Homo sapiens: one gene and its partners. The protein of the gene in region 1 purifies or fractionates together with the protein of each later gene. This does not show direct contact. Each region holds a gene or a part of one and is shown in the gene's direction. Other genes may lie near its edges.

Region 1 (3,650 bases):
TGGGAATGTTCTGTATTTTGACTGTGACAGTGGTTATCCAACCATATCCATTTGTCAAAATTCATAGAACTGTACACTAGAAAAGGCTGAATTTTACTGTATGTAGAAAATACCTTAATAAACCTGATAAAGAAACAAAGTATTAATGAGGTTTTTTTCTATGAGTACTTGAGCAAGCAGATTGTTAGCTTGCTGCTTTGAGAATCAGGAACAAACCCATGCTTTACCAAGGGACCAAAGAAACTCATGAGACTCACCCTCCTACTTATTCCCACTGTTCTTTTTCTTTAAATGCTTACCCTGATAAACTGGTAATGAAGAACTTAAACATTCTTTATCTCTTCAAAAAAATTAATGAAAAGATAGAAAGATATGTTGTAGGCTTTTGAGTTTCATGTGGCAAGGTCTTTACTTTTAGCAAAAACCATTTATTAAGTGATATCTGCCATTTAGCACTGGGTAAGACATTACTTTCTTAGCACGTCAGGCAGGACTAATAGATGCAGCACAAGCCTCGTTTTCTACCTCAAGGAGTTGCCATGAGAATCAGTAAAGGGTGTGTTTGTGTAAGCACTGTGTAAATTGCTAAATAAATGCAGGTGGTTTCATTGCCAAATACTTAACAAGCAAATAACTTGGATTTCAGTTTATAACAAGTTTATAACAAGCAAATAAACTTGGATTTCAGTATCAAAGAACAACCCACAAACATGGCATGGGTGAAACATATAGGAATGAATTACTTGGCTTACATCTATGTTTGGCCCCATTGCCTTTTTGCCTGGTGGGGAGAATCCGATGTCCAAGAGCTTTGCGCATAGCATGGAGGAATGGCAGGAATGAAATTTTACAGACTGGAGAGTGGGAGGAGACTCGGTGGAAAGACAGCTATTGGCAAAACTTGGAGTTAGGGGCTCTGAAGGAGTGAATCCTCAACAGTTTGTGTGTTTGTAGATGTACAAGTGTTTGTATAGTCTCTATGCTTTTATGAGGTAGGCTCTCTTGTTCTAAATGTAGGTGACCATTGTAGCAAATGTGCTGTTCCCCACACCAACCCTTTCTTCTGATACCTCCTCTTCCAGTGGTTTTGCACTGTAGTTCTTGATACATTTTTGTTCCATGTAACTGCTTTTATCTCACGAATATTGTCATGAACTCACTGATATCAATGGTAAAGTTTTAGATGAGAAATAATCTATTTCTCATCTTCTTTTAGGTACATACACACACAATTAGAAATCTTATCTTTTTCCCTCTTAGATTGCTATGTCATATGTCATAAAGAGGTACTCCAAGTTGAGCTCAACAAATATTTATTTGTGTGACTTTATTTGAAAATTTATTTACAGAGTATTACATAATGATAAAATGAATTCTACTGGCAACATGACCTTGGCCAGATCCCTTAATTAGCATCCCTGTTTCCTTACTTGCAAAATGCAGGTATTAATAATAGGACCAGTTTTGCTCTTGTCACTATATAGTTGTAAGAATCACAATAGCTTAGGAAAGCTTGCAGTCAGCTCTGAAGTTCTGCCCAAATACAAGACAGTGGTATTATTAATGGAATCCTTCTCATTATTTGTACTATTCCCAGAAGGGGGTACACTGATAAATTCTTATGTTTCCAGGGAGAGTCACACCGGGACAGCTCATGTCCTATATTCAGCTCTTCAAGAACAACCTCAAAGCTCTAATGAATCATTGTGGCCTCCTCCAGCTTGGACTGGCCACAGCTCAAACGTTGAAACACCCACAGACTGCCAAGTGGGACAACTTTCTGGCTTTTGAAAGGCTCCTTCTTCAGGTATGTTGCTATGGGAACCTCGTGGGATCTTAATAATTAATGTTTTGACTTCCAGAGAAAAACCTTGACATTTATTATAGCCTTAGTAATAAATCATATTGTTGACATGTGCCCTGCTTCATATTCTCTAAGTGCCCCCTAGTTAAAATTCAAGTAGAAACTTTTTTCACACCTGTTTAAAAAAAAATTTTGACAGTAACATCTTTGGCTTCTCATTTAATACCAAGGATGTTTTTTGAGCATTGGACTAACCTCTGGACACCTCTTTCAATTTTATGCCATTTGGACCTTTCTTGCTCTTCATGGCATCTTTATTTGATCCTTGCTACTTTTTCTGTAACATATTATCGCTATTTACATTTCTTCTGACATTACCTAGTTTCTAGTCCTTAAGCAACATATAGCATGTGTCTTAAAATGGCGTTTAGTAAAAAATGAAGGAAGTGATCTCCATTTGTAGTGTTTATACAGATATTTGTATGTGGGATAGGAACTTTTCATGACTGATGAAATATTTTCATGGGAAACTTTTAAAAAAATATGTAGTATGTGTTTTTTAAAATTATGAAGTATTTTTAAAAATTATACAGTACTTTAAAAAGGACAGAGGATTGTGAAGCATAAATGTACATAAAATGGCAAGTATCTGTAAACTTTCCACATAGACTCAATATGATTTATCATTATTTTCATATTTATCATGGATCCTTTTTCATTAAAGAAATAAAACTAGAGATAAAGTTGAAGCATTTTTGATACTATATAACCATCTCTAATCTGATTTTCCTTTTTCTTTCCCTAGAGATAATTACAAGCTCAATTCACTGTTTTTATATTTTTATTAGATGTTTGCTTTCTCATAAATAATATAGAGCATTTATGCTATGGGTTTTAATTTTACATAAGTGATATTATACTATAAATATCCCTAAATAGCTTGCTTTTTTCTCTCAAGGTTCTATTTTTTTTTAATTATACTTTAAGTTTTAGGGTACATGTGCACAACGTGCAGGTTAGTTACATATGTATACATGTGCCACGTTGATGTGCTGCACCCATTAACTCACGTCATTTAACATTAGGTATATCTCCTAATGCTATCCCTCTCCCCTTCCCCCCACCCCACAACAGGCCCCGGTATGTGATGTTCCCCTTCCTGTGTCCATGTATTCTCATTTTTCAATTCCCACCTATGAGTGAGAACATGCGGTGTTTGGTTTTTTGTCCTTGCGATAGTTTGCTGAGAATGATGGTTTCCAGCTTCATCCATGTCCTTACAAAGGACATGAGCTCATCCTTTTTTATGGCTGCATAGTGTTCCATGGTGTGTATGTGCCACATTTTCTTAATCCAGTCTATCATTGTTGGACATTTGGGTTGGTTCCAAGTCTTTGCTATTGTGAATAGTGCTGCAATAAACATACGTGTGCATGTGTCTTTATAGCGGCATGATTTCTAATCCTTTGGGTATATACCCAGTAATGGGATGGCTGGGTCAAATGGTATTTCTAGTTCTAGATCCCTGAGGAATTGCCACACCAACTTCCACAATGGTTGCACTAGTTTACAGTGCCAACAGTGTAAAAGTGTTCCTATTTCTCCACATCCTTTCCAGCACCTGTTGTTTCCTGACTTTTTAATGATCGCCATTCTAACTGGTGTGAGATGGTATCTCATTGTGGTTTTGATTTGCATTTCTCCGATGGCCAGTGATGATGACCATTTTTTCATGTGTCTTATGGCTGCATAAATGTCTTCTTTTGAGAAGTGTCTGTTCATATCCTTTGCCCACTTTTTGATGAGGTTGTTTGTTTTTTTCTTGTAAATGTGTTTGAGTTCATTG
Region 2 (3,650 bases), on another chromosome or scaffold:
ATTTTATTCTACTGATTATGTAGATATTGGGAGTTTGAGCAGTTACAGAGACTACAGACCTCGCGGGCTAAGCCTGGTTGTATTATTAAGGGCAGAAGAATGCAGTGGGACTTACGGGTTTGAGGTACTAATGAGGTCCCCCAAGTCAAGAGGAGGCTCATTATGTACATGTGGAGGTCAAGAAGCCAGAGTGAAGCTGCCCAAACAGGGTACCCTTTATGTTTTCAAATTCCTGTCTATCTCCCAGTGTATCCCTACTGTTGGACAATAAGTTTTTGGGGGGTTTTGCTGTTTTAAATAATGCTATGCTGAACATCCTTGTAACTTTTCTGATTAGTTTTTTTAGGATAAATTGCTAGAGATGTAATTCATTGCTGGACCACAGGGCCAAATATAAATCCTAATACTTAAAAATATGTGTGTGTGTGTGTCTGTGTATGTGTAAATGTATAGATATATACACACATATATACACATACACATATATACACATGTGTATATATGTACACGTGTGTGTATATATGTATATATTTTTTTTCTCGAAAAGATGTACAAACAGTTAAAAAAAAATTCAGACAGTACAAATACGGGATGTCCAGTGAATAAGTCTGCCTCCCACACCTGGCCCTCCTTCTGCAGGCTTCACCTTAAGAGAAAAATGCTGTTACTAGGTTTTTGTGTATTTGCCCAGAAATATCCTATGTTTATATAAACATGTATGTTTCTATTATTTTCACTCTCTTTCTCTTTTTTTTTTTTTTTTTTTTTTTGAGACAAGGTCTGGCTCTGTCGTCGTCCAGGCTGGAGTTCAATGGTGTGATCTTGGCTTACTGCAACCTCTGCCTCCCAGGCTCAAGTGATCCTCCCACATCAGCCTCTCTAGTAGCTAGGACTACAGGCGTGCACCATCACACCCTGCTAATTTTTTGTATTTTTTGTAGAGTTGGGGTTTTGCCGTGTGGCCCAGGCTGGTCTCGAACTCTTGAGCTCAAGCAATCCGCCAACCTTGGCCTCCCAAAGTGTTGGGATTACAGGAGCCATGAACCACCACACCCAGCCCACCCTCTTTTTTTTTTAAACACAAATGGGAACATCTTATATCTACACTTTAAAATAGTGCTTCCCATTTCTTTGTATGGCTGTGTGATATATATGCCCAGTCCTGAGCTGGTAATGACACACTCCAGGGCTGCAAGGTCTTTATTGAGCAACCACAGAGTGCAAGGCACAGGATTAAGGCTGCCTCTGCGAAAGCAACACGATGTCTTAAACTGGGCTAGTCCCCCAGAATGCTTTGCAGTCTCCCGGGGAAAGGGGATTTGTAGCGCGCCTGGGACCCAGTGGGCCCCTAGTATCCCAGGCAGGAAGTAGAAGAGGCTGTCAGACCCTGGGGTTGTGGTGGGGTCAGGAACTCTTCGCCCCACTACCCCAGCAAGCACCCAGTATCTACCCCAGTACTCCCGGAGGGAGCTGGTCTGCCCGAAGTGAGTGTGCCATTGTATGCAGGGGCGGGGGCCACAGACTCAAGAGGCCTGGGGGAAGCTGGCTTCACAGGTGAAGGGTGAGGGGTAGGGGCACGTCTGTGCCCGGCACTGGAGCAGAATGCTTGCTTTCTCCTGGATAGCCGACTAGATTGTCTCCTTTTTTTCTTTCCTTTTTCCCCAGAGGCTCATCCAAAATAGAGGAAGCATGCGAAATCTACGCCAGAGCAGCAAACATGTTCAAAATGGCCAAAAACTGGAGTGGTATGTCATCTCCGCTAGAGCTCCTCCAAGGTGCTCTCCTCCTCCCTCAGCTTCCACTCACACAGGCCTGCCCGAGAGGTTGGCCTTGAGGGCCCTTTCTCTTTGTATGCCCTCTCCGGCATCGGAAAGCCACTGGCCTGCTCTCTTGTTTTGTGCCTGCTGGGTTACTTTATACTCTGGGTCATGGGGCCTTGGTGAAAGGACAGAGAGGATGGGAATAAATAGATTATTAGACCTAGATAAACCCATGTGGATTGATGAGCTCTTAGAGTCCTCCTTAAATTCAGAACTTCAGGTTTCCTGGTAACTTCCTTAGTGCTTCCATCAGTGTCTAAATTCTAGGCTGGGGGAGGATGTTCAGGTGATTCCAATAACAACGTGAATCATGGCTGCTGTTTGTTGAGTCCTAAGTGCTCATCATTTAATTGCGTTAGCACAGCAGCCCTAAGGGTCAGTCTATAAATATCCCTATTTTACAGATTTGGAAACTGAGGCTTGGCTTAGTCTCTTGCCCAGGATGCCAGAACTAGTAAGTGACAGAACCAAGATTCAGAAACCAAGGCTCTGACTGCAGAGCCTGAGTGTTTAACCTGCCCCAGTGAGGCAGGATAGCTTCACAGAGGAGAGGGGTGGGGAGGAGCCCCTTGGGCTCAGGGAGGCTGGAGATCTGTTTGGAGCTCCCTGCAGGCCCAAGAAGTCCAACAAGCCAGTGTGTTGAGCCCTTTCGAGGCTCATTTCATCATACATCTTTCATGTCACCAAGATTGAATTAAGGAAATACGGCAAGAGACCCAGTGTTTGAATGCAGGGAGGAACTTCTGACTGTGGAGGAGAGGGAACCTGGTGGTGGGACCATGGAGGCAGGGTGCAGAGGTGCACAATAAAATTGATTATCATCGTTTTTGAGAATGTTGTTGGTTTCCCCAAAATTCAAAGAGTTATTCCTGAGTTTTCACAAAATACGTTGTGAATAAAGCCAAATGTTTTTTGTATTTTTATGCTCCCAAACTTAGAAAATTCCTCTAGAGAAAAAAAGCTTATTTTTTAATTACATAGGTGTTGCTTTTCCCCTAAAATTTGTTACCTCTGCCCCCAAACTCTTCAAAGAAAAGCCCTAGGCCATTTCCCCCCGGTAATATCCCCTTTTCTTGAAATTTTTTTTTTTTTTTTTTTTTTTTTTTTTTTGAGACAGTCTTGCTCTGTTGCCAGGCTGGAGTGCAGTGGCGCGATCTTGGCTCACTGCAACCTCCGCCTCCCTGGTTCAAGTGATTCTCCTGCCTCAGCCTCTTGACTAGCTGGGATTACAGGCACGTGCCACTACGCCCAGCTTATTTTTGTATTTTTAGTAGAGACAGAGTTTTACCATGTTGTCCAGGATGGTCTCCATCTCCTGATCTCGTGATCCGCCCACCTCGGCCTCCCAAAGTGCTGGGATTACAGGCATGAGCCACCGCGCCTGGCCGTAATTTTATACTCAAATTTGGAACTCTTGAAAATAATGAAATCATATAGTGAAAACCCGGAAGGCTTTGTCTTTTCTGCTGCTCAAAACTTAAGAGGATAGGGCCAGGCCTCCTGGTCCTCTTCCAGCTTAGAAACTCTGACTCAGATTCAGCTGGAGGAGAATGAAGGGGAGAAGCCTCAGAGCTGAGCTGGAGGTGGTCAGCTGCACGAGGAGGAGGAGAGATGCTGCTGCCTCCCAAACGTCAGTTAGGAGATGTGTGGGCAGAATGGCTTGGGACCCACAGAAGCTGACCGTGTGCAGATGAGCACAGGATGGATGAGGCTTCAGGCACGGTCTCTTCTGCCCTCCGCCCATGGGCACTGGTCTGCATGTATTCATTCTTGCTGTCCACATCCTGTTTCCCTCTCTGGACATGCAGCTCCTGGAGGGAGCCGGCTCTG
Region 3 (3,734 bases), on another chromosome or scaffold:
GCCCTGGGAGTTGGAGCTGCTGGAACCAGCTAGTAACTGGCTTCCAGAGGGGCCCTTGTCACAGATGATGATGATAGCAGCTTTTTATGTTTATCAAACATTTATTAAGCACTGGGCATAGGGTTGCAAAATTTACCAGTGTTAAAACCCACAACCCTACGATGTAGGAACTTCTGTTCTCCCATTTGAGAGATGAGGAAACAGCTCAGGCTTAAGGAACTTGCCCAAGTTCACAGAGCCAGAAAGTGGCTCAATCAGGAGTTAAGCCCGGGACTCAGGGTGGGGCTGAGCCCAGATGACTGGCCTCTCCCCACAGGGCTCAGGAGGTGAAAGAGAGCCCCTTTTTCCGCTCCCTGGACTGGCAGATGGTCTTCTTGCAGAAGGTAACAGTCTGCGGCAGGGACTGGGGGTGCTCTGCAGCCCCACCCCCGAGCTAATGCCCATGACCCCTGTTCTGCTGCAGTACCCTCCCCCGCTGATCCCCCCACGAGGGGAGGTGAACGCGGCCGACGCCTTCGACATTGGCTCCTTCGATGAGGAGGACACAAAAGGAATCAAGGTACTGGGCCTTGCCTGGCCTCTTGTACCTAGGCTGTGATCCTGGCCTGGGGAAGGATCCCTCTCCCTTCTTATCACCTGTGAGACCCTGTGCCAGCCCTGCCAGCTTGTAGGCCTCAGTTCCTCCTTGGCCAACTTCCCTGGGGGGTGGCAGTTGCACTGACCATCCCTACCCAGGGCCCTGGGTCTGGGCAGCCTGTGGCTGATGGTATTCCGGCATCTCTGTCCACCCATGTGCCCCTGCCCCATCCACCTGGTAAAGTTACTGGACAGTGATCAGGAGCTCTACCGCAACTTCCCCCTCACCATCTCGGAGCGGTGGCAGCAGGAGGTGGCAGAGACTGTCTTCGACACCATCAACGCTGAGACAGACCGGCTGGAGGCTCGCAAGAAAGCCAAGAACAAGCAGCTGGGCCATGAGGAAGGTGAGGGTCGCCGGCTGCTGCGGCACCAGGCCCCTGCCTGCTTAGAAGTGAGCAGCTGGCTCGGGTTTAAGGAACTCACCCTGGATCACAGCCAGAAAGTGGCGGCTCTGGGATTCAAACTCAGGCTGGGGCCGGGCATGGTGGCTCACGCCTGTAATCCCAGCACTTTGGGAGGCCAAGGAGCGCAGATCACTTGAGGTCAGGAGTTTGAGACCAGCCTGGCCAACATGGTGAAACCCTGTCTCTACCAAAAAATACCAAAAAAATTAGCCGGGCATGGTGGCACGCGCCTGTACTCCCAGCTACCCGGGAGGCTGAGGCGGGAGGATCGTTTGAACCTGGGAGGTGGAGGTTGCAGTGAGCCAAGATTGTGCCACAGCCCTCCAGCCTGGGCAACAGAGTGGAGACCCTGTCTCAAAACAAAAAAGAAACCCAGGTGGGGCCGGCTGAGTCTCCTCTGTCTCTCGCCTCAGACTACGCCCTGGGCAAGGACTGCATCATGCATGGCTACATGTCCAAGATGGGCAACCCCTTCCTGACCCAGTGGCAGCGGCGGTACTTCTACCTGTTCCCCAACCGCCTCGAGTGGCGGGGCGAGGGCGAGGCCCCGGTAAGGAGCCCGTGCGGGGGTCCGGGAGCCGGGCTTCCGGGTGGCTGGCCGGCCCGGCTCTTACCTGCACCACCCATCCCTGGCCCTGCAGCAGAGCCTGCTGACCATGGAGGAGATCCAGTCGGTGGAGGAGACGCAGATCAAGGAGCGCAAGTGCCTGCTCCTCAAGATCCGCGGTGGGAAACAGTTCATTTTGCAGTGCGATGTGAGTGGGGGCTGAGCCAGGGATGGGAGGGCCGAGGGGCCAGGCCAGGCAGGCTGGGGAGAGCCCCAGCTGACAGAGCTGGGCTTGGCATGTGCAGAGCGACCCTGAGCTGGTGCAGTGGAAGAAGGAGCTGCGCGACGCCTACCGCGAGGCCCAGCAGCTGGTGCAGCGGGTGCCCAAGATGAAGAACAAGCCGCGCTCGCCCGTGGTGGAGCTGAGCAAGGTGCCGCTGGTCCAGCGCGGCAGTGCCAACGGCCTCTGACCCGCCCACCCGCCTTTTATAAACCTCTAATTTATTTTGTCGAATTTTTATTATTTGTTTTCCCGCCAAGCGGAAAAGGTTTTATTTTGTAATTATTGTGATTTCCCGTGGCCCCAGCCTGGCCCAGCTCCCCCGGGAGGGGCCCGCTTGCCTCGGCTCCTGCTGCACCAACCCAGCCGCTGCCCGGCGCCCTCTGTCCTGACTTCAGGGGCTGCCCGCTCCCAGTGTCTTCCTGTGGGGGAAGAGCACAGCCCTCCCGCCCCTTCCCCGAGGGATGATGCCACACCAAGCTGTGCCACCCTGGGCTCTGTGGGCTGCACTCTGTGCCCATGGGCACTGCTGGGTGGCCCATCCCCCCTCACCAGGGGCAGGCACAGCACAGGGATCCGACTTGAATTTTCCCACTGCACCCCCTCCTGCTGCAGAGGGGCAGGCCCTGCACTGTCCTGCTCCACAGTGTTGGCGAGAGGAGGGGCCCGTTGTCTCCCTGGCCCTCAAGGCCTCCCACAGTGACTCGGGCTCCTGTGCCCTTATTCAGGAAAAGCCTCTGTGTCACTGGCTGCCTCCACTCCCACTTCCCTGACACTGCGGGGCTTGGCTGAGAGAGTGGCATTGGCAGCAGGTGCTGCTACCCTCCCTGCTGTCCCCTCTTGCCCCAACCCCCAGCACCCGGGCTCAGGGACCACAGCAAGGCACCTGCAGGTTGGGCCATACTGGCCTCGCCTGGCCTGAGGTCTCGCTGATGCTGGGCTGGGTGCGACCCCATCTGCCCAGGACGGGGCCGGCCAGGTGGGCGGGCAGCACAGCAAGGAGGCTGGCTGGGGCCTATCAGTGTGCCCCCCATCCTGGCCCATCAGTGTACCCCCGCCCAGGCTGGCCAGCCCCACAGCCCACGTCCTGTCAGTGCCGCCGCCTCGCCCACCGCATGCCCCCTCGTGCCAGTCGCGCTGCCTGTGTGGTGTCGCGCCTTCTCCCCCCCGGGGCTGGGTTGGCGCACCCTCCCCTCCCGTCTACTCATTCCCCGGGGCGTTTCTTTGCCGATTTTTGAATGTGATTTTAAAGAGTGAAAAATGAGACTATGCGTTTTTATAAAAAATGGTGCCTGATTCGGCTGTCTCAGACTCTTTTTGTACCTGGTGACCCCTTTTCAGCTTCTGCTGGGCTGGGGCCTGATGGGGAGGGTCTCGGTGGTACCAGGTCTCCTCCACCGCCATGGCTTCCAAGGTGGTCTGCTCGGGCCCAGGCCATCTTCCAGGTGGGGTGAGGCAGTGGGTCCCACTTCCCCTCCTACCCCTCCCAGCTGACAGTCCTCTCCACCTAGTGGCTGTCCAGTGCCCATTCCTCACCTTTTCCCGGGGAGGAGAGAGCAGCTTCTGCCACTTCCCAGGTAAGCAGGAGGAGGTGCCAACAGTGTTAGGCCTGGCACAGTGTCTGGGCTGACTGGGACCGTCTCAGGCCCACAGAACACCCCTGCACAGCAGGCACCAAGCTGAGGCCCCTCCCCAGAAACAGTCACAAGGCACCTCTTCCCTCTAGGTCACACCGCAGCCTCTGGGCCCTTGGCCATCTCTGGCTTCAGCCTCCTCTCTGGCCTCACTGCACAGCCCTAGTAGGGGTCCCTGAGGCCTGAGGGGAACCCCAGCACTAGGCCTCTCCTCTACCCAGAGGCTTCTG

The links.
Region 2: the proteins of SCFD2 (region 1) and NAPA purify together in Homo sapiens (affinity purification with mass spectrometry; 2 studies listed by BioGRID and IntAct, with this or other methods). This does not show direct contact.
Region 3: the proteins of SCFD2 (region 1) and GRK2 purify together in Homo sapiens (affinity purification with mass spectrometry; one large-scale study listed by BioGRID and IntAct). This does not show direct contact.

The regions. Positions count from the first base shown.
Region 1 is NC_000004.12:53,271,983-53,275,632, reverse strand, and holds part of SCFD2 (sec1 family domain-containing protein 2), read left to right. Parts: intron 1-1,631; coding exon 1,632-1,807; intron 1,808-3,650. UniProt on the Homo sapiens protein: May be involved in protein transport.
Region 2 is NC_000019.10:47,501,518-47,505,167, reverse strand, and holds part of NAPA (alpha-soluble NSF attachment protein), read left to right. Parts: intron 1-1,665; coding exon 1,666-1,745; intron 1,746-3,570; exon of another isoform or gene 3,571-3,650. UniProt on the Homo sapiens protein: Required for vesicular transport between the endoplasmic reticulum and the Golgi apparatus. Together with GNA12 promotes CDH5 localization to plasma membrane.
Region 3 is NC_000011.10:67,283,391-67,287,124, forward strand, and holds the end of GRK2 (beta-adrenergic receptor kinase 1), read left to right. Parts: intron 1-316; coding exon 317-383; intron 384-463; coding exon 464-559; intron 560-820; coding exon 821-983; intron 984-1,456; coding exon 1,457-1,593; intron 1,594-1,684; coding exon 1,685-1,798; intron 1,799-1,895; coding exon 1,896-2,060; 3' UTR 2,061-3,166; downstream 3,167-3,734. UniProt on the Homo sapiens protein: Specifically phosphorylates the agonist-occupied form of the beta-adrenergic and closely related receptors, probably inducing a desensitization of them. Key regulator of LPAR1 signaling.